3 linked regions of the Homo sapiens genome follow. The protein of the gene in region 3 interacts with the protein of the main gene of each other region in a pairwise test. Each region holds a gene or a part of one and is shown on either strand. Other genes may lie near its edges.

Region 1 (7,027 bases), on a different chromosome or scaffold from region 3:
GTGAAGCTGCCTGATACTTACTGAAACAAAAAGGAAGGAAAGTTAGAGGATTTCCTGGCAGATTTAAAATAAATGGGTTAGATAATGCAAAGCTAATCCCAAGTTAATATAAGCATCTCTGATTGCTAGATGGTGGGGTGGATACTGCAACAATATCAAAGAAATGAGAGCAAATCTGCACTTCTCTCTTTAAAATGACTTTTCAGTCAATTTGCTGAAAGGAAGAAGTATCATAAATGATATTCTGTATATCTGATTTACTTTTTTATGATATTAGGTAGGAGAAAAATGAGTCTGAGATGATGAAAATCAAGCAATATGAACAAGTCAAAAAATTTTAAAGTAGAAAAGGTCATTTCATGCTGGCATGATTATTGGAAAAGGTAGGAGTTCTAGGGAAAAATAGGTGTGGACTAATGAGCTGAATAAACAATGGGGCCTGGATTTGTTTTAACCACATCTACAACATATCATATCTATTTCTAGGAAGTCCCCATGGGCTGCAGGGGACAGGAAGATCCTGATCTGTGACAAATCGACTGGATGGAATTTTCAGGCTGAAGAGAGGTTGAAACCACAAAATCTTGGACAGTCTTTCATGAGCTCAGGCCTGCAATCATGCCCCACACAGTGAGCCATGGTGAATGCATTTTGAAAAGCAACCTCCTCCCTTCCCTTTTCCTCTTTGTGACTTTGTGTATCACAAAAGCAGCTGTGAGCCAGAGGTAAGACTCTGGAGTTTACTTGGCTTCCCTTGATTATTACTGACTGCCCAGGTCTGCTCCATCCCTCCCAAATCTTGCCAGCTACAAGATCTCTCTTCACCCTGGCAGGATTTGTAAACATACTCCCCAAACACTCAGGAAGACTGGAAGAACAACTTTTGGGGCAGTGGCTCTCCAGCTTTCTGTTAAACAAAAGGCTCTTTAACATTTGATTTCATTTCAGAATAACGTTCTTACTTCATGATTCTATAATTGGTATAAGCTATACAGTCTCTGGAAAGGCATTTCTTTAGGAAACATATTATTTATGATCATTGGGGACCGAGTTAGAGGTTTATTTCTTTTTTTTTTTTAATAGAGTTTTGTGTGTCTTATTCTTAAATTTAAAAAAGCATCTTCAGAAGGTGCCATATCCATCCCCTCGGGCAGTCACTGCAAAAGTTGGGTAGACCTCATAGGTTGTATATGCTGCTAAGTCTTGTCCAAGGGTTACCGCTTGCTTGAGCTGGGCTGCAGACACGGGTGCAGTTGCATTAGGGACAGCATATCCTGGAGGAAGAGGCAGAGAAAACTTGATGAAAGGAATTCACATTTGCTCCCTTTTGGCTTATTTGTCTTCTTTTAGAAATACGAACATTTAACATATTGCTTAAAGCTAAAAGTTAATATATATGTTTTAAAAAGTGTCCTTAAGGACACAATATGTGGACTCAGTGATTTTCAATGATATTTAAACAGTCCTAGGACAATGTTCCCTAAAGTGGGGTCAACCACCTGTGTCAGAATCACTTTATACTTAAGAGAATTAAAGATGCTTGGGATAGGGTCCAAGAAAGAGAAACTTAACAGGATACTGAGTTGATTAAAGCTTGTGATTTTTAGCGTTTTGAGGGTCTCCAAATTTATAAATGAGAAAAGGTGACTGAGGGGCTGGCTGGGCATGGTATGTGGGGAGGTGGGGATCTGTGGGACTGGTTCTCCTGTAACCCCACACCTGCCTAAATGAAACATTTAAAACATTTGCCTTTACCCAAGAAGATGTGTAAAGACTGGGAGATCAGTAGGAGAAATACTGTAAAGGTTAAGTGTGCTTTTCCATAATACCTTAAAAGCAAATGCCTAACCTGTCCATATTTACATGTAACTATGAATGGCAAAAGCACCTTCTTACCTCCCAAGCCCCTCATCAAGCCTGTGCTTGTTGTATTCAGAGGCCTTGATGCTGGTTCTCCGCCTCAGAGAACCAAAGTATCTGAGAATTAAAAAAATAATCTATGCGCTTTCATGTTAGCATTGTGTCTAGTGGATGAGCATTCACTTTTGAAGAAGAGAGCATATTAGCTACTATCTAAAGCATTATTTCTCTGTATTGTTTTAGTTTAAAACCTGAGTATTTCTGAGATTATCCAGAAATTGTAAAAGATAGCAAGAAAAAGAGAGAAGTATACTTAAGTACAAATGGGCACCTATTTTTCATTGTTGTTTTAAACCCCATTTAGTTTATGTGCAGTAGAAGCCTGCCCAACCCCAGACACATTGATTTTTTTCTAGTGGCTTCTCAGAAAGTGGTGGCAGGAAGCTGGTTGGATTATTTTGAACAAAAATTGAATCCACTCTTGGTGCATTCATTTTGGTCAGTAATGCTGATTAATGCACTAGTGAAGTTTGGTCCATTTTCCAAGGATAGGAGACATGTGTTAACAGTTACTTTCATGGTTTTGGAAACAGTATTTCTAAACTAAGTGAGTAATGTAACTGTGTGAGTGTGTGCACACATGCATGCATGTGTTTGTGGCACAGATTTTACCTTTAGGGATTTTGAATTTTCTTTTTCAACTTGGTCAATTTGTTAAGTGCCAGGGTGTTTGGGTTTCAAACTGATTCTTCCCTTGGAGCCTATTATTCTTTGCTTGACTCCACAGCAAAGTTATAAGAGAGGCTCTCAGATTCTTAGGCATTCCCAAGACAACACTCATGCCCTAAATATTTTTAACTTCTCACAGAAGCCAGTGGAAGTGAGAATAAGATAAAACATTCTTGGGTAAAAGCAAATCCTTTCCAATGTGAAAGCAAACTTTAAAATTCTGACAGTGGCTCATTAGTTTAATAGTACATTTGTTAGGTGTCTTTGGGGTGCAGCTTTCTGTAAGACAGGGGCTCAACTTTCTCTAGGAACTGAGAAGCCCTGGCAGGCATCCTGAGTAAATGGACATGTAAACACCCTGTTATGTGGAAAGCAAGCACTGGCTGCTGGCCCCACACTGCCCAGGAAGGACCTTGCCCTCTGCAATGTCAGCTGTTACCTTGGTAACCTCCGAGGGACTCACCACAGAGCATCTCCATGTTCTTACAGAGAAACAAAGCCAGAATTGAGGTCACTTTCAGATGTGAAACATCATTAATGTTAGCCCCACTGGCCAGAATGGAGGATATATTCAAAACTTTTGAGAAAAAAAACCCCAAAACCAAAAAACACTACTGAGAAGGAGCCCCAGGTGCAGTGGGTGTGAGGAATATAAAATTTTTCACACCTACGCATGGCCAATATATGAATTAATTAATCAATAAGAATATCATGTTTCTAGGTCTACTTAGAGCTCTAATTTGGACTTATGTGGCACACGCTGACACAATGAGAAGTAAAAAATGACAGATTTCTTTAATAAAAATAATCTTTTACTAAAAAAAAAAAGGATAAAAAATTTTCAGCTGAGAAAAAATTTCCTAAACAACTTTCTTGCCTGGTCCCCTTCAATCTCTAAAGGATTCAGTTTTAATTATTACCATTTGTTGTGGGTACATAACAAATGGGGACAAATCTTTTAAAATGTGACCTCTGAAGGCATTGTTGATCCACGGATAGGCTTTGCTTTAAGCAATCAGCATATGCCCCAGACCAAAATTATAGAACAAATAAATTGAGTTGAGTCCTGATTATTCACATATTGAAAGGATCTCTGTCTGTCTCTCACTCTCACAAAATTTTTGACTTTAAAAAATCTTTTTTGAAATCAAATTAATAAAAGTAGATTGAAGACTGGAGAGGGAGAAAAGATTGCTGAAAAGCTAATTGCCAGTGGCCAAATTACTTAATCTTTCTGTATATGGGCTCTTCATTTGTATACCAGACTTTCTGATGGAACCTAACTCTTGGTGGTATCATGAGTATTACTAAGATATTATAACGCTTCCTGACCATTTAAGTGAGTGCCTAGCACACAGTAAGATCTCCAATAAACATCATATATCTATAGGTAGTTTCAAACTCTCGTACTAAAAGTAAAAACCAAAACAAACCAGACTCAGAGAGACTGACTCATTCAAGATCACACAGCAGTTTAAAGCTGAGCCGAGACCAGAACCCACTCTGCTGCCCAGCTTGATTTTCTTGCCTCGTGTTTTAATGAGTCACTCATTTGGGAAACTCTTTTTGGTCCCAAGGTTGTGCAAGTCAGATTGCTGTAAGTAGGGTACACAAACATTTCTGTGATTCAATGGTACCAAAAAAGGGTTTCCCAAATACTCTCTGCAGGGCGCCATTTCTGGCACAATTTTCCCATACCTGGGAAAGCAGTAGCAGCAGCAGCAGCAGTAGCCATGGTGCCATCGCCTCCATCAGTGGGGATGCCCAGGGTCTGCAGGGTGTATTCGGCTGCATACGTCTTTGCTTCATCCACAAAGGCACTCAGCTTTGGAGGTGTGAAAGGGTGGCTGGAAAGCAAGTCAGTCAGGGTAGGCATTTTTAAACTGGTACAACTGAGTCAGGTGAAAACTTAAGGCACTATCAGCTTTGTAAGATGACTGGATGGTGGTATTTTGAGTGGGTGTTTTTCATTCTGTTTGCTATTAAAGCTTCTAAATATAGGTTGCATGTAGAAATATTTACAAATTGATCTAGAACATCAGTGGTTGATGACATTCCTGGGACATACAAGTAATTCACTACATGGCTTTTCTAAAGCACAAGTGAAACAAATTGTTCCTAAAATATATAGAAATGCAGGCTCAAGGTAAAATTCAGGAGGTGATATCCACTAACAGAGAGGTCATATCTTTGGTCCAAAATTAAATGATGGGCCATTGTCTTATTATGTATAAAATGGTAGTTTCATATGCTTCAACCTAAACACTGCACAGATGAAAGAATGGGCTATAGCTTTGTTTGTTTGAAATGGAGTCTCACTCTATTGCCCAGGTTGGAGTGCAGTGGTACAATCTAAGCAAACTCCACCTCTCAGGTTCAAGTGATTCTCCTGCCTCAGCCTGCTGAGTAACTATGACTACAGGCGCCTGCTGAGTAACTATGACTACAGGCGCCTGCCTGTACCGGCTACTACATCCGGCTAATTTTTGTATTTTTAGTAGAGACGGGGTTTCACCATGTTGGCCAGGTTGGTCTCAAACTCCCGACCTCAAGTGATCCAGCCAAGAATGGGCTATAGTTTTTATTTCTATTACATTTTACACTACTGACTGTTATCCACTGGCTGGTGATACTACACAACCTTCATTGTGTATATGAAATTTGGGGGCCTTTATATGCTGGTTTCATGGCTGGCACATCCCAACTACACATCTCAATATTTGCATTGAATGACAAATGAGTAGGTAGTAGACCTCAGTATCTTGTTTAGATGGTGACTAAATGCATTTAATTTATAAGTGTATCCTGCTCTAAAATGGTAAGGAATTTGGAGAAGTTACGCACATTGCAGGATTCTGGCTGGCTAGAGCAGGAATAGTTATTTTGTACAAGAATAGCTGTCTTTGGTCTTGTCCAATAGCAGAGTGCAGCTGGTACACTGGCTGTCCCCAGTTATTTTTCTGACAAATCTCTTCTAATATCTACAAGAATAAAAAAAGTTATTTCCCCCTCAAATGACACATTCACATTATTTCCCAAGTTTTCAGGTTTTTAAACTCTAATTTTCAGAGTTCAAGCTAGTATCTGAAGACATAAAATGCCACATGATTTAATGACTCATAAAATTTAAGATGAACTCAATTTGAACTCCATTTAAAATGTTAGGTCTATTAGTTCATAAAATCACTTTCACACCATTTACTGTAATATGTTTTTAGTTTAGTCTATTAGCTGTAACTTTTTACCAAAAGCTTAATTTTATGATTTGTTTGGAATATTTGTTTTTGTAAAAATTGTTGCTCCAACACTGTGTGTATAGATTTGTATAGATTTACTCATTATTACTCTCAATCTCTGTGTTTATAATGGTTTAGAGATGATAGCCTAAGAATATATTTTTATTTCGTGACATTTGTCATAGGGTTTTAATCTCACAATTTCATAAAAATAGAATTAAAAAGTTTAATGCTTGGTATTTATCGAGTGTTCCTAGATGGGTGTTGACAGTTGCAATGTTTTTATTTGTTTGGTAAGACACTATTTCTGCCTTTTTTGTTTGTTTGTTTGTTTTTTTGCTTAATGACAATATGCTTTTTAGCATCCTCCTGCATGTTTTTTCTTCTGTAATTACTCCAAACTGAATATTTTCTAAAGATTCATAGTTTCTTTATTCTGAAGCCATTTTTGGTTGTCCAGAGGTCCTGATGCTCTCGTTAGTCAGCAGATTCAGTAGACTGTGGAAAGCAGGGCATAAGCCTGAGAAAATAACTCTGTAAGACAGAACAATGTCTCAGGATGTGTCTCTGAGGTTTCTTACCTCATTTATGCTAACTAACCCAGCTGCAATAGCATGATATTTTCCAGTTTATTAATTTGTAGATTGTTACTGTTTTTTCTATTGATATTTTCTTTTTAATACTCTTGTTGTGTAGGATCTCTTGTAATCCTCAGAGCATTCTCTACAGTTCTTGGGCAATAATAAAGGAGCTTTTGCTGGTAGATATTATGCCTGCTTGTTTATGCCAGGTGAGCAAACCTGGGCGGAAGGAACACCAGCTCTCACTGCTGACTTTGCAGGAAAGGGCTTGTCTCTCTGCTTCTGGCTGGAAGTTCACAACTCTACTTTGGGATTGTTTAGGCCCCATCTGTGTTGGTTGGTGGTGGCATGGTCTTCATTTCTAAGCCATAGTTGTAGAAGGTCAGACACAAATTAAAGAACTTTTATTAATTGATAGAGATTGTTACTCACATACTAATAAAAGACATGATGAATTTCTAACTTGAGTTTAATGTAAAATGAAGAGATCTCTTTTCATACTATTGCAGCTCTCGGAACTATTATTATACAGAATTTGCGACTATTATTTTTTATTTTCTTAAAATATTTCTAAGTATTCCAGTACTTTAATCAGGTTTTTTGTTTTGGGTTTTAACCTAA
Region 2 (7,027 bases), on a different chromosome or scaffold from region 3:
TCTACTGCAACATTTTGTCATACCCACTTCTGTTTCATTACAATACCTCAATACCTCAACTCTCTTTCTGGAAAAATTTTAACATGACAAATTATTTTATAAGTATGTATTTCGAGATTTTGGTACTGATATAAATGTATCACAGGGGCAGAAAAATAGGATATCATGGAGCCCAATGTTTCTATCAACTAGGGCTTTGTATCACCATATCACAGAAGGACAAGAACATGGCTTTTAAGAGTTGAAGCTTAGTTCAAACCTTGATTCCATCATTTAACAACTGTGTGATCTTAGGTTAGTTAATTTCTCTGAGCTTGTTTCCTCAGCTGTAAAATGGGGACAGTAATGCCTAATTCATAGAATTACAGTAAAGATTAAATCGGTTAATATGTAAAATGCTGGCAGAGTATCAGGCCAACAGTAGGAGCTACACTTTCTTCCTTCCCACTGGGAAAATTATGAACAAAATAGTATTTTCTCTATTTTTTCAAACACCTTTTTATTGTGTACTACTTTTATACTTACAGAAAAGTTGCAAAAATAGTACAGAGAAATTTCTGTCTATCTCCTACTCTGCTTTTCCGAAGAGAAACATGTTACAGAACTATAGAATAATGATCAAAACCAGGAAATTATCACTGGTGGCCGGGCACGGTGGCTCACACCTGGAATCCCAGCACTTTGCGAGGCTGAGGCGGGTGGATCATCTGAGGTCGGGAGTTCGAGACCAGCCTGGCCAACCTGGTGAAACCCCATCTCTACTAAAAATACAAAAATTAGTCAGGCGTGGTGGCAGGCGCCTGTAATCCCGGCTACTCGGGAGGCTGAGACAGGAGAATCGCTTGAACCTGTGAAGCGGAGGTTGCAGTGAGCCAAGATCGCGCCACTGCACTCCAGCCTGGGTGACAGAGCGTGACTCCATCTCAAAAAAAAGAAAAAAAAGAAAAGAAAAACATTATCACTGATACTATACTATTAACATACAGACCTAATCAGAATCTTACCAATTCTTCCAATGTTCTTTTTCTACTGCAGGATCCTACTTTCTTTTTAACTAGCTTGGCTCTATGGAAAACATTTCTTGATTTACACCACTTTTTATTAACAGTTTTCAAATGAAATTTAATTCAAAATCAACTTTTTGTAAATAATAGTATGCCTATAATATACAACATGCCCTATGAATGGAATTACGTTGGTACTTAATTAAAACAGTCCTGAAAATACAAAAATTCAAAAATTCCTGAGCAAAACAAGAAATGTTCCACCACATTTCTATAAAACACAGTACAGGTATTATAATAAATTTTTATTTTTTTGAGACAGGCTCTCACTCTGTCGCCCACGCTGGCCTACAGTGGTGCAGTCACAGGTCACTACAGCCTTGACCTGGCTCAAGTGATCCTCCTGCCTCAGGCTCCTGAGCAGCTGGGACTACAGATGCCTGGCTAATTTTTGTATTTTTTTTTTTTGTAGAGGAGGGGTTTTGTTATGTTGTCCAGGCTAGTCTCTATCTCCTGGCTCAAGAGATCAGCCGGCCTCAGCCTCCTACAGTGCTGGGATTACAAGTGTGAGCCCCCATGCCCGGCCAATATTTAAATTCTTAAGTGCCATATATTCAAAAAATATTGGGGTTTAACTTGACTTTGTAATCATGTTGAATGAAAATAATTCATATTTGGTCCACAAATAACAATAAATTGGTATAGTTTGAACAGACCCCCTTCCTGGCAATAGTCCTTTAGTGTGGCAATGGTAATCTTAAAAGTAGTACTCCCTTCATAAGATCTGACTCATTTTATTATAAATAAGCACAGACCTTTGAAAATATATTTCTACTCCTGTTAATACAACGAGGCAAGATTATGCAGGTACTATTCTTATTAATGTATCTTTTATAATGCAGCTTTGGGAAGTCAATGCTAAGACAACATAGACTCTGAAAGAGAAGGAGATATAATAACATTTTAAAGAAACACCAAAACTCAAAAACCATAATGGAGTGAAGCTCTTTACTGGGGTGGCAGACAGCTCTTTATTTATATCCTGCCTTGGTAGAAAAACAAGAGTGTGGCACATAATTTAACCTTTCCCCAGTGACTCAGCATCACTATTATAAATATCAGACAATTTGCTGTGACACTGACTCATTGTCAAAAGGTTAATTATGTCCCAGGTGCTTCATTCGAGAAGCAAGAAAGGTGTATAACAAAAGAGTTTAATCAGAAATGTTTCAAATACAGCAGACTTCTGAATTTAACAGAAATGCTTCAGTTGATCTGAAAAATTAAGTTATGAAGCGAATATTTTCTCCAAAGAGACCAGAGACATTGGGTGTACTTATAATAACGAATTTGATCCATGACTTAAATCAGGTGGGAACTTGACTTTGGCATCTTTGCTTCTTTATCTATTCAAATCTAAATGTGTATGAAGACAGAGCTCTTCAAGGTCAACAACCACATCTGATTAATCTTTGTATCTCTCTTCCTGATCTTCCTTTGATCCTGGTACAAAGTACTATAATGCTCAAGAAATGTTACTGAACAAATGGAAAGAGGAGGACAAAGAACTCTATTTTCTCAAGAGACTAAGGCTTTACACAGAAAAAATAATAATATAGCCAAGAGAGTAAAATAAAAGTAAACCCATGGTTATTGTCACTCTGAGGGGTTAGGCTATGAACCAATTTTTCTTGATGTTATTCTATCTGGACTCCCAAGTGGAAGCTTATAGATAACCAGCCTTGATAACCGTCACTGGGAGGTGGGAGGTGGGGTCCTGTAATCTAATGCAGACTAGTCCAGATTATTTTTGGCTCCATTTAACAGCTCGTAAAATAATTTTCTGTCTTTTACCAGTTCTAAGAGTCTTTCCCACTGAAATGTACATCTCAGGGGAATGAGACAGAAGGCTCCTTCCCTAAGGAGCTGTGTCATCTTTCCCTTGGACTTGGGTCATTTATTCAGCAAACTGATGAACAGACAAGATACAAGGGTGGTGAGAAGCAGAATGGAGAAGAATCTTATTTTGTTCTTAAGTTTCAGAATTTCCTAGAGAAGTGGAAATTAACTGCAAAACACCAAAACAACCAAATATATTTTTATTTAAATGGACTCTTTTTTTCCATATCATCCCTCCTGACAGCCTCCACCACAAGCCTTTGAGTGGGTTTCCCAAAGTGCCTTTCATGGGACAGCAGTCCTTGTGAGTAACATCTGAATAATGTCAACCTACCTGTAGTCTACAGCAATACTGTGCAGCAGGCAACAGGTCTCTTATTTCAAAACGGGTGTCTGTCCCATGATAAATGAGTTCTAAGGATTCTTCATCTTCTCCCCATTCCAACCTGTACTCTGAGATGTCAGCACCAGAACTATCAGGACTCTGGAAAGGCAGAAATGGAAGTAGTTAATAATGCCACTGAGAAGAGAATCCTACTGTGCTTGTATTCAATTAACTAAAATGGGAAAGAGAGCAACATGCCCCAGAATATTTCAAATACATATAAAAGAAAGGCACGATCACAAATATATATACCTACTATGTACCCACAAAATTTTTTTTGAGATTTAGAAATTTAAAAATAAAATAGGGCCAGGTGCGGCGGCTCATGCCTGTAATCCCAGCACTTTGGGAGGCTGAGGTGGGTGGATTGCCTAAGATAAGGAGTTCGAGACCAGCCTGGCCAACACAGTGAAACCCTATCTCTACTAAAAGTACAAAAACTAGCCAGGCATGGTGGTGGGCACCTGTAATCCCAGCTACTCAGGAGGCTGAGGCAGGAGAATCACTTGAACCAGGGAGGCAGAGGTTGCAGTGAGCCGAGATTGTGCCACTGCCCTCCAGCCTGGGTGACAAGATTGAAACTCTGTCACACAAAAAAATAAAATAAGTAAAATAAAATAAAATTTTTTACAAAAAGAAAGGCATGAGAAACCATTTCCTCTCAGTTTTGACTACAGTAAAACTTCCACAACCCTAAATAATATAAGCAAGTGGCAAGTGCCAAGGGTGATTACTATAGTACACAGAGCAAAAAAAAAAAAAAAATCATCTATATGTGCATTTTGGATTTGCAGCTTCCTTATAATTGGTATTTGTATTTGGGAGTAAAGTAGAAGAAACAGAAGTTGATGCAGAATATGCCTGACTTACCTCCCAACCCACTAAGACACATCCATCAGGTGTACAAGAAATACAAGGTGCTTTGCATTGTCCAGGAGGCCCTGCAGCAGTGGTAATTTCTGAGACATCAGAATAGGGACCATACTGAAAGAAAACACACGCACACACACGTATGTATATATGCGTGTATGTGTTTGTGAATGTGTGTGCATACAAAAGCTTATAACCAAATAAAAGCTAGGCTAACATCATCATCAACACAACTAATTAACAAATATTACCCAATGATTTTCACTTTCAATTCAATGTGTGTAAGTTTTTCTCCTATATACAGTCCCTGAGTAGTAGATGTCTGTCATTTTTTTAATTGTAAAATAATTAGTTGGTTGACAAAATATTTTCCCTTTCTTGGGACATGAAATAAAAATATGCTGATTTTTGACAAAACAGGGCAATCTGCTTTCATATTTCTCAGAGGACATCCAAGAAAACTAAGTCAGATGCCCACTGCAGTTTAATTTTTAATGAATAAAAATATACTTGGAATTGTTGGTGATCAAATTCTAGGTATTTCTTCTAGTTACCGGTATTTTCCATTTTGAAAATAAATGCTTCTGTAATGTTTTCTCAGTGTGTTCCCATCACCTCACCTATTCAAGGGTATCCACGGCAATCCTGATGTTACCATCAGTGACCACACTGCTCAGAGCCAGGAATTGCTAGAGACTTACCACACTTTGAGAGAGTCACAGCCACCTGAACCACCCATTTTAATGGTGGCATATTTGATACTTCAAAGGTTTGGAGCAGAGTAAAAACTTGCCAGGCTAACAAAATATATGACTGTCCTTGTCAAAATGAGAGAAAAAAGACGGCGGGGAGGGGGGAAACAAAAAACCACCTCTCAACATAACATGCAAAGATGCTGGGGAGTTGGGGAAGCTCTCTGAAATGGACCTCAGAAGGTGACTACAGCGATATATATGGTTAATTTCTAATACAACAGGAATAAACCCAAGCTGAAGATAGTTTCTTTATAGGATAAATCAGTGAAAGGGCTGAGAAAAGTACAGCTCACACCAGCCCAGTTGCACATTTATCTTTGTTGTGGCAGATAGTAACTGAAAAGTTGATGAGAGAATGGGGTAGACACAACAGTGTGCTCATCACTATCCATCTTCTTTTCGCTTACATGATTATAAGTTCAGGTACATAGGCGTTAATGTTCAGACTTTTTTGTTTTCACTTAAGTATCATTGTTGTGTCTGAAATTCTTTTCTATTGGAGAATTAGGAGAAATCCAGTTTTGGGCACTCTGCCTAAGGAATAGCCCTTCTTTTATTCCTTTACTTTCTTAATAAACTTGCTTTCACTTAAAACAAAAAGTCACTGCAAGTTGGGCTGTCTTATTTTTTTAAAAAATCATCAATTAATTAATTCTATTTATTTGCATGGAGCCCATCTACACAAACCACTGGCACTTTGGACGGGGCATTTAGCTGGCTTTACCCACACGCTTCTGCCCTTTTATGCTTCATCAATCTCTGAGCCCACCCAAAAGCCTCACAGTTACTGGGACTCCCACTGCTCATTATTCATCTCCCCCTAAATCCACATCATTTGGCAATTTCAAAGAAAAAAAGGACAACAACCTTTATGGATATAACATAGACATATATATTCTCAATTTTTGATAGCTCAACTTGACAACTCCAAATGGAGCAATAGAAGGAGAGAGTCCTGTAGTTTTCACGTGAAACAAAACAAAAACAAGCTGGTGTCCCTGGCCACTACCCTTCTCTAGTTGTAAAAACTGACCTAAGATGTTGCTGGTTCATTTAGACAAGACAGTATAAAACTTTTATTAGAACTATTATCTAATCCTAATTTCCCTGAACTGATAAAGTCAATAGAATAGGAAATTTTCCAAAAACTGTCGAAAATATCTACAGGGTGATATCCTTATTAACCTTGAGTGCTGTCTTCATAGAATGATATGAGGACAAAAGAAACAGAAAACTTCTAATGCTGGGTCTATATGAAATCACAACAATATCAACTCAGAATTAAGATTTACAGACACTGCATTAATGGTTGTCAAGGTTGCATCAAGACTGTCAAAAATTTCAGGAGGCTAGAGACAGAAGTGCTAGCACTTTGGGTTCTGATTATGCATTCTGATTCTGGTTATGGTGTATGGGCTTATACTCACCCCTCCATCATTCAGAGCCCTCACCCGGAAGCGATACACGGTTCCAGGAAGCAGGTTGCCGACGGTGCACTCCAGCTCTGGGCCATGGTACACTTCCGAGGCTACGTCTTCGGGCTCCGTCATCTCCACGCTGTACTCTGAGACCTCACAGCCACTTTCCGATGCAGGAACATCTGGGAATGAAGAATTTTTTTCATCTTAGAACACTTTGTGCTTCCAGTTGACCAAAGTGCACCAGATTTCACACAAGTTGAGCAAAATATCACATAGGTGGCCGGCCTCAGTATCTCCCTTACAAAAGAATCCATGCCCACCAAAAAAGAGATATAAAAATAAAAGTTTCTGAATGATGTTATCCATACTCTCCAAAGCGGGTCCACTGAAGTTTATTTAATTACATTGATAAAATAATCCCAAAATTATAGGAACATTAGATATATTTCTTCATATTCTAATGCTAGGTAAATGGAAGAAAAAGAGGGAAGAAAAATCTCTTTAATTGGAAACCAAAGGTCATGCTAAATCAAAATACAGGACCCCAAATTGGCACAATTTATTATACTTTAGACATAAGTGGTAGGAAAAAATAGTCTGCTAGAGAGTTCTGTACATTTGTACTTGTAATTATACATGTTGTAAACTGCTGGACACAACAGGAAACGCTAATACAGCTTAAATCAATGCTGT
Region 3 (7,296 bases):
CATCAGCGCGTAGGTCTCCTGCGCCAGGCCGGGCTCTCCGTGCTGCTGGGCAAAGGCCAGCACGTCCAGGCAACTGCCCAGGTCCAGCCGCCGCCGCAGGGCTGCCGCCGTGGCGGGCTCCAGGGCCCGGGAGCTGGGCTTCCGGGGCCCCTCCACCACCCCCCAACCCCCGGGCCTCTGCAGAAACACCATGAGCTTCCGGGCCTCCTCCTGCTTTTCCGTGAGCGCCCCGCTGCGGCCGGCAGGGCTGCCCCCCTCCCCCGGCGCCTCCCCTTGAGGGTCCCCCGAGGCGGCCGGCCTGACCTCCTGCTCCGAGCTCGGGGCGATTTCGCACCTGCTGCGTTTCCGTAGCTGGGGTACCGGCTGTGAGCGCCTCGCAGAGGAGGAGGCCGCGGGGCCAGGCGGCCTCTGCGCGGGGGGCTGTGCGGGGCCCCTGGGCATCGCGGCTTGGGGCAGCGGGTCTAGACTTTTCTCCCTGGTTCCCTCTCCTCTTAGGCCTGGGGGAGGGTCTGGGCTGGGCGATCCGTTGGTCTCGGAGCTTCTTGGCTGTGGCTGACCTCCAGCCTCAACCAGGCCCCCTGTACCTGTCCCTATGACTGTCCCCACTGAAGAAGAGGGGCCGTGTCTGTCCTCAGAGTGTGTGGAAGTGCTGGGACCCACGGGGCTCCCGGGAACCGCCCTCGGGACACTCCCTTGGGGCCTGTCTTGCCTGGGGAAGGGGTGGCTTCTAAGAACCATGGCAATAAGGTTTCCCCAGCTGGCTGAGACCTGCCCCTCCTGGTAGCGCCTGGGGAGAGCCACACTCTCCTGAGGCTTTGACCCGTCAGCTGGGGCAGGGGATGCGGCTGGGGTTGGGGTTGGGGCTGAGGTGGGGGCTGGGGCAGGGGATGCGGCTGGGGTTGGGGCTGGAGTTGGAGCTGGGCTTAGGGCTGGGGTTGGGACTGGGGTTAGGGCTGGGGATGCGGCTGGGGTTAGGGCTGGAGTTGGAGCTGGGCTTAGGGCTGGGGTTGGGACTGGGGTTAGGGCTGGGGATGGGGGTGTGAGGGTTGGGACTGGGACTGGGGCTGGGGCTGGAGTTGCGGCTGCAGCTGGACTTGGGGCTGGGGCTGGGGTTGAAGTTGGAGCTGAGGTTGGAGCTGGGGCTGGGGCTGAGGTGGGGGATGAGGTTGAGGTGGTGGCTGAGGTTGGTGCTGAGCTGGGGGATGAAGCCAGGGCTGGGGCTAGGACTGAGGCTGGAGCTGAAGTTAAGACTTGGGCTGAGGCTGAACTTGGGGCTGGCGCCGCTCTGAGATTTTCGCCCACGGAAGGATCCTGGGTAACCTCCAGGGGCAAAAAGTCTGAAGGAGAGGGGAGAGTCAGGGCTTCAGGTGGGAACCCCGGGCCGGGAGCTGCGGGCGGGGAGGCGGAGCGCGGGCGAGGCTCACGGCTCCGGGAGGGCGCGCGGCTGTGGCCGGCTGCAGCCGGCTTTGCTTGCTCCGGGGGCCGGGTGGGCCCCAGGTCAGCGGCAGGACTGTTATCTCGGGAGCTGTCAGCCCCGGCCTCGCCGGCATCGTAGGCCCCTGTGGCACCCGGCCCTTGGGACGAGAGTGGGCGACCTTGAGGCGGACTCTCTAGCCAGGGGCGCGTGGAGTCTGGGGCTGGGCCAAAGCTCCGGGTGCCCGGGACCTCCCTGCTGACCCAGGGCCAGCCTCCTCCGGGGGCAGGGACCCCCGAGGCCTCCCTGCTCCAGCCACCCTTGGCCCCAGAGCCTTCCGTCTGAGACCCAGGCTGCAGGGCGCGGGGAGCGGGCAGCGCCGGGAGTGCGGGCTCCTGGGCGAGTGGGGGTCCTGTGGGGAGGCCGCGCGCGTGGGCGTCCAGGGCGGCGGCCCCGTCCACCGCGTCCCACACGCTCCCCGCGGCGCCCAGGCGGAGCGGGTCCAGTTTCCGGGGGCGGCGGGCTCTGTCTCCCGAGCCAGCGTCCATCCGCCGCCGCCGGCCCCGGCCTCTCCCCATCGAGCCCGAGGGCCCCGCGCCCGCCTGCCAGGGGCCAGTGTCCTGTTGCCCCGCGGGGCCTGCGGCCTGGCGAGAGGACGCCCTGACACCACCTGTCTCCGCCTCCGCTTCGCTGCCAGGGCTCCGAGGAGTGAAGTGGATCAGGAGGGGGGCGGACATCCCCCCTGCTTCGCTCCTGCCCAGGAGGGCAGTGCCTGGCCTGGGAGGCTCCTTTCCTTCCGCTCGGGGGGCCGCGGGGGTGGCACTGCCCCGTTGCTGTCCTAATGCCTCTCTGCGGGCCTCCTCGACAGCCGTCTTGAGTGGAAGCCGGGCCATGGCGGCCAGGCCCCCGCCCGGCGCTGCAGCAGGGACAGGGCTCTGCTGGCCGCGTCCTGGGGGCTCTGGTTTCCCCTGCCCTGGGCTCTGCCCCTCGCTGCCATCACTGACCTTAGACTTCGGTTGCAGGGCCAGCTCAGCTCCTCCTGCCTGATGAGGTTGAGCCCCGAGGGCTGTGGACACCGGTTCTGCCGCCTCTTGATCGTGCCCGGAGCCAAACCAGTGTAAGGCCAGCGCTGTGGCAGCCACCACAGCCAGCGCCAGGAGGGCCAGCACAGCACTATCCCAGTCATTGTCACTGTCCCAGTCCCAGCCCCAGAGGGGACCATCTGGCTCCAAGGTGCCCTGGATCATGGTTCAGGGCTGCAATAGAGGCCTGATGGCAGGCTGGCAGTGCATGCAGAGCACAGAGGCCTGGGCTGAGGCACCGGCCAGCGCCTGCCCCAAGGGCTGCCCAGTTAAGGTGGACCAGTCCTCCAGGGCCTGGGAATGGTGGGGTCTCTGCTTGCACTCAGGCCTGGGGGTGTCAGTAGGGCCTGGCTGCAGATATCAGGAGACAGCGAGGCTTATGGCAGGATAGGAGCCCAGGGTCTCTGCAAGCACCCCACCAGCTCCTGCCCTCTTCTCCTCCTCGTAGGCCCCAGGGTCCTCAGGCAGCGTTCCTGAGCTCTGTGCTGTCATCACAGCCAACCTGCTTCTGCCTGGTAGACCCTCACACCCCTAAATTTATTCCACACCCCACAGTCCCTCCTCTCAGCCTGGGCCCAGCTTCAGGGGGCTTGGCAGGGAAGGGTTACCCACAGGGAGATGTTATCTCTAGCTCTAGCAATGTGATGTGGCCCTGATGAAATCACCAGAAACCGGAGAGGCTGATTCCACTGTGGGCCAGCAGGGGAGGGGTGGGGGCCGTGCACGGGAGGGTGCAGGCTGTGCCTGACGGTGGTCTCTCAGGCTGAAGAGGGAGACCCTGGACACGGGTCCTGGCAGTGAGCATTATCATTGCAGGGGTGCTGTGGAGGTTTGTACTGGGGCACAGGGAGGGGGCATAGAGAGGAGACTGAGGCTCCCATAGCTCCTCCTCCAGCAGCTTTTGGACTCCTTACTCTGGGTTTACCAGACATGGGATAGGGTTATCAAGTCAAGAGAAAAAAAAAATTAATGGGATAAATAAAATCCAAACATATTTCTCTCTTTATGGCCAGGCTTATTTCAGCCCACCTAGACCTTCTAGGATCTCCTGGACCCCCTGCGCCCATCGAGAGTGTCTTGACTGCCCAGATGAGACTCTCACTGTGCCCCTGGAGAACCCTGAGCCCAGCCTGCCCCCTACTCCAGTTACCGCATCAGCCAGCACCTGGATCCCTTAGAAACCACCCCCCTCTGGCCCCAGGTGCTCTAATAGCCAGACTCTGGGTGTCTTCATCTCAGTCCTCAGCCTTCCCTTATCTGAGCTGAGGACTCGCCCTCGAGACCACATCCTGGCTGGTACCTCCTAGCCCTGGCTCAGGCCGGCATGTAGGTACTTCTGTTGGATGTGAGCACTTGCTTCCTGAGGGAGAAGCCTGGGCTCCTCCACCTGCTCCTTGCTTAATCCCATCTCAGGAGTGTCTCGGGCCAGGTGCCAGGTGAGGCTCAGACAAGAAAAAGAGCCTGGAGTCCCTGGGACAAAGGCAGGGCTCCCTGGAAAGTACCGTGTGTATTTTTCCTTCCTCTGGGACACAGCAGGCCTGGGGATTTCTCCCTTACTCAAGCAGCAAGGAGATGGCCTAGGAGTGTCCCTGGCACCCAGCCTGAACCCTACTGAGCCTCAGGTAACTCACCTCCCAGCTCCCCCTGGGACTATTAGATGACAGGGAGAGGGTGAGGGTGGGCCCCATGCCTTAAGGTGGACCTCAAGTTGAGGGAAGGCTTTCTAGACCGTGCCCTTATTCTCTGTCCCAGTCTCAGGCTCTGCCTCTTGGTTAAGTTTGGGGTCCAGAAACCTTCAGAGGATGGAGATGACACCCATAAATATTAGAGACTGAGTAGGGGGCGGGAAGCGGTGGCGGCAGCGCACCCCCGGGGTGCAACTGCCCTGGAACTCCAAGTGGTGGCTTCAAAACTGGATTAAAATTTATTTCCGCGAAACCCTGGAGTCACGGTCCGGCGCCGACTGGCGTTTTCTGCCGTAGACTGAGAACGCGTCAGGGATGGCTCCGTTGGCAGCGCGCGCGAGCGCCCCCGGGCCGCGCCTGGAGGGTTGACAGCGACTCGCGGGCGAACTGTGAACCCGCAGCCCCTGGGCTCCGAGCGCAAACCTGGCGACTGGGAGGGCCCGGGGAGCGGGTGAGCCAGCGCCAGCCCCGCCGGCCCCAGGAGCGCGAATTTCTCTACATTTCCGGCTGTGGCCGCAGTTGGAGGATGGGATCAAAACGGGCAAAAAAGTGCGACCTGGGCCGAGGTGTCGGATCGCCTCGAGGTGGGAGGCCGAGGTGTTGGATCGCCTGAGGTCAGCAGTTCGAGACCAGCCTGGCCGACAGGGAGAAACCCTGTCTTTACCGAAAATAGAAAAATTAGCCGGGCGTGGTGGCGGGCGCCTGTAATCCCAGCTACTCCAGAGGCTGAGGCAGGAGAATCGCTTGAACCCGGGGAGTTGCAGTGAGCCGAGATCGCGCCACTGCACTCCAGCCTGGGTGACAGAGCCAGACTCCATCTCAAAAAAAAGAAAAAAAGACACCAGCAAAGGGTTTTTTTCTGTTAATAACTAGGTCCCCCCAACCCCCCAAAAAGGAGGATGGTTAAAAGCAGAAAAGGCAAAAAATAAAGGCTTTTGGCCGGGCGTGGTGGCTCACACCTGTAATCTCAGCACTTTGGGAGGCCGAGGCAGGCAGATCACCTGAGGTCAGGCGTTCAAGACCAGCCTGGCCAACATGGTGAAACCCCTGCTCTACTTTAAAAAAAAAAAAAAATTAGTGGGGCATGGTGCCGGACACCTGTAATACTAGCCACTCAGAAGGCTGAGGCAGGAGAATCGCTTGAACCCGGGAGGCGGAGGTTTCAGTGAGCCGAGATCGCACCGCCACACTCCAGCCTGGGCGACAGAGCGAGACTCTGTCTTAAAAAATAAAATAAATAAACTCTTTTATATTTCAAAATCTGAAGACAAATCACTGTAGTGCAGATAAAATAAAACGTTCATATCATTTTATTATTTTAACGTGTTTCATATTATTTTAACGTGTGACATTAAACAATTTCAGGGCCGGGCGCGGTGGCTCAAGCCTGTAATCCCAGCACTGTGGGAGGCCGAGACGGGCGGATCACGAGGTCAGGAGATCGAGACCATCCTGGCTAACACGGTGAAACCCCATCTCTACTAAGAATACAAAAAAATTAGCCGGGCGCGGTGGCGGGCACCTGTAGTCCCAGCTACTCGGGAGGCTGAGGCAGGAGAATGGCGTGAACGCGGGAGGCGGAGGTTTCAGTGAGCCGAGATCGCGCCACTGCACTCCAGCCTGGGCGACAGAGCGAGACTCTGTCTCAAAAAATAAAATAAATAAAATAAAGTCTGTTATATTTCAAAATCTGAAGACAAATCACTGTAGTTCAGACAAAACCTTCATACCATTTTATTATTTAACGTGTTTCATATTATTTTAACGTGTGACATGAAACAATTTCAGGAAATTGTATTAGGTATTGCGCTCGTGTCTTCTTAGGCGTCCTCATCCCTTTTCACCTCGGAGCTCAGCGTCTTCCTCAGCAGCACTTCCATGTCATCTGCCCCGTGAAATCAGCCTAACGCCGTTTCTCAATGACGTGGATCGCCCTAGGCCACCGCAACCTTCCGGAAGCTCTCTCAGCTCAGTTCCCATTCTCCCACCATCTCTTGGTTCTCCTTCTACCTCACCGGTTGCTAGTCCTCCGCTTCGCAGCTGAAAATGTGCCCGGGGCCTACTGTGGGCCTAGCCAGGCCTGCTTACGCAGTGCAGTTTCCCATGAATGATGCCCAGTCATTATCACATAACCTGTGGCAAGCCAGCAAGATGGCCCTGGTGACAGCAAAAGAAACTGCACTAGGACCTGAATGTAGATCTCAGTCATGTTCCTTACTAACAGCACGTTTTGCAACCATGCGTTAAAGAAACATCTGACTCACAACAAAATTTTAAAGGGTTTATTTGAGTGAAAAGCAATTTATGAATTGGGGAACACCTGACTGAAAGAGCGTTAGTATTCCAGAGACAAAACATCAAGTGCAAGTTTTTATTGGGAAAATGTAGAAGCACAATAAAGAAATTATTTGATTGGTTACAGTTATAGAGTTGCTTTCTTTGGCTTATCCTGTTGGAAAGTCAGTAGTTATATAATCATGATAGTTGGTTACTTATGATTGGGTAGATTAAAATTTATCTCTGTCTAATGGAAGCATTTATCAGAAACAACTCAGCCAGGCATGGTGGCTCACGCCTATAATCCCAGCACTTTGGGTGGGAGGCTGAGGTGGGCAGATCACCTGAGGTCAGGAGTTCAAGACCAGCCTGGTCAACATAGTGAAACCCCATCTTTACAAAAATACAAAAATTAGCTGGGCATGATGGCAAGTGCCTGTAATCCCAGCTACTCGGGAGGGTGAGGTGGGAGAATTGCTTGAACCCGGTAGGCAGAAGTTGCAGTGAGCCAAGATTGCGCCATTGCACTCCAGCCTGGGCAACAGAGAAGACTCTGTCTCAAAAAAGAAAAAAAAGAAATGACTCATGCCTGTAATCCCAGCACTTTGGGTGTGAGGCCGAGGCAGGGCAGATGACTAGTCTTTGAGACCAGCCTGGGCAACATAGCAAGACCTTGTCTCTACTGAAAAACAAACAAACAAAATAATGGCTCAAGTTAAGTTTCACTTATGTTTTCAATTTAAGCAAGGCTGAAGTCACTTACGAGACCTAACTTGTTTTGTCTGCTTAGGGATTCTTCAGGCCCGGTCTCCATTTTAGTTTACTTAAACAGCCCGGG

The links.
Region 1: the proteins of KLHDC7B (region 3) and A1CF interact in binary tests that used the Homo sapiens proteins (3 or more experiments, as listed by UniProt).
Region 2: the proteins of KLHDC7B (region 3) and FNDC3B interact in binary tests that used the Homo sapiens proteins (3 or more experiments, as listed by UniProt).

The regions. Positions count from the first base shown.
Region 1 is NC_000010.11:50,805,607-50,812,633, forward strand, and holds part of A1CF (APOBEC1 complementation factor), read right to left. Parts: intron 5,571-7,027; coding exon 5,434-5,570; intron 4,437-5,433; coding exon 4,288-4,436; intron 1,275-4,287; coding exon 1,123-1,274; 3' UTR 1-1,122. UniProt on the Homo sapiens protein: Essential component of the apolipoprotein B mRNA editing enzyme complex which is responsible for the postranscriptional editing of a CAA codon for Gln to a UAA codon for stop in APOB mRNA.
Region 2 is NC_000003.12:172,343,572-172,350,598, reverse strand, and holds part of FNDC3B (fibronectin type III domain-containing protein 3B), read right to left. Parts: intron 6,514-7,027; coding exon 6,341-6,513; intron 4,273-6,340; coding exon 4,159-4,272; intron 3,388-4,158; coding exon 3,238-3,387; intron 1-3,237. UniProt on the Homo sapiens protein: May be a positive regulator of adipogenesis.
Region 3 is NC_000022.11:50,541,609-50,548,904, reverse strand, and holds the start of KLHDC7B (kelch domain-containing protein 7B), read right to left. Parts: upstream 3,007-7,296; 5' UTR 2,662-3,006; coding exon 1-2,661.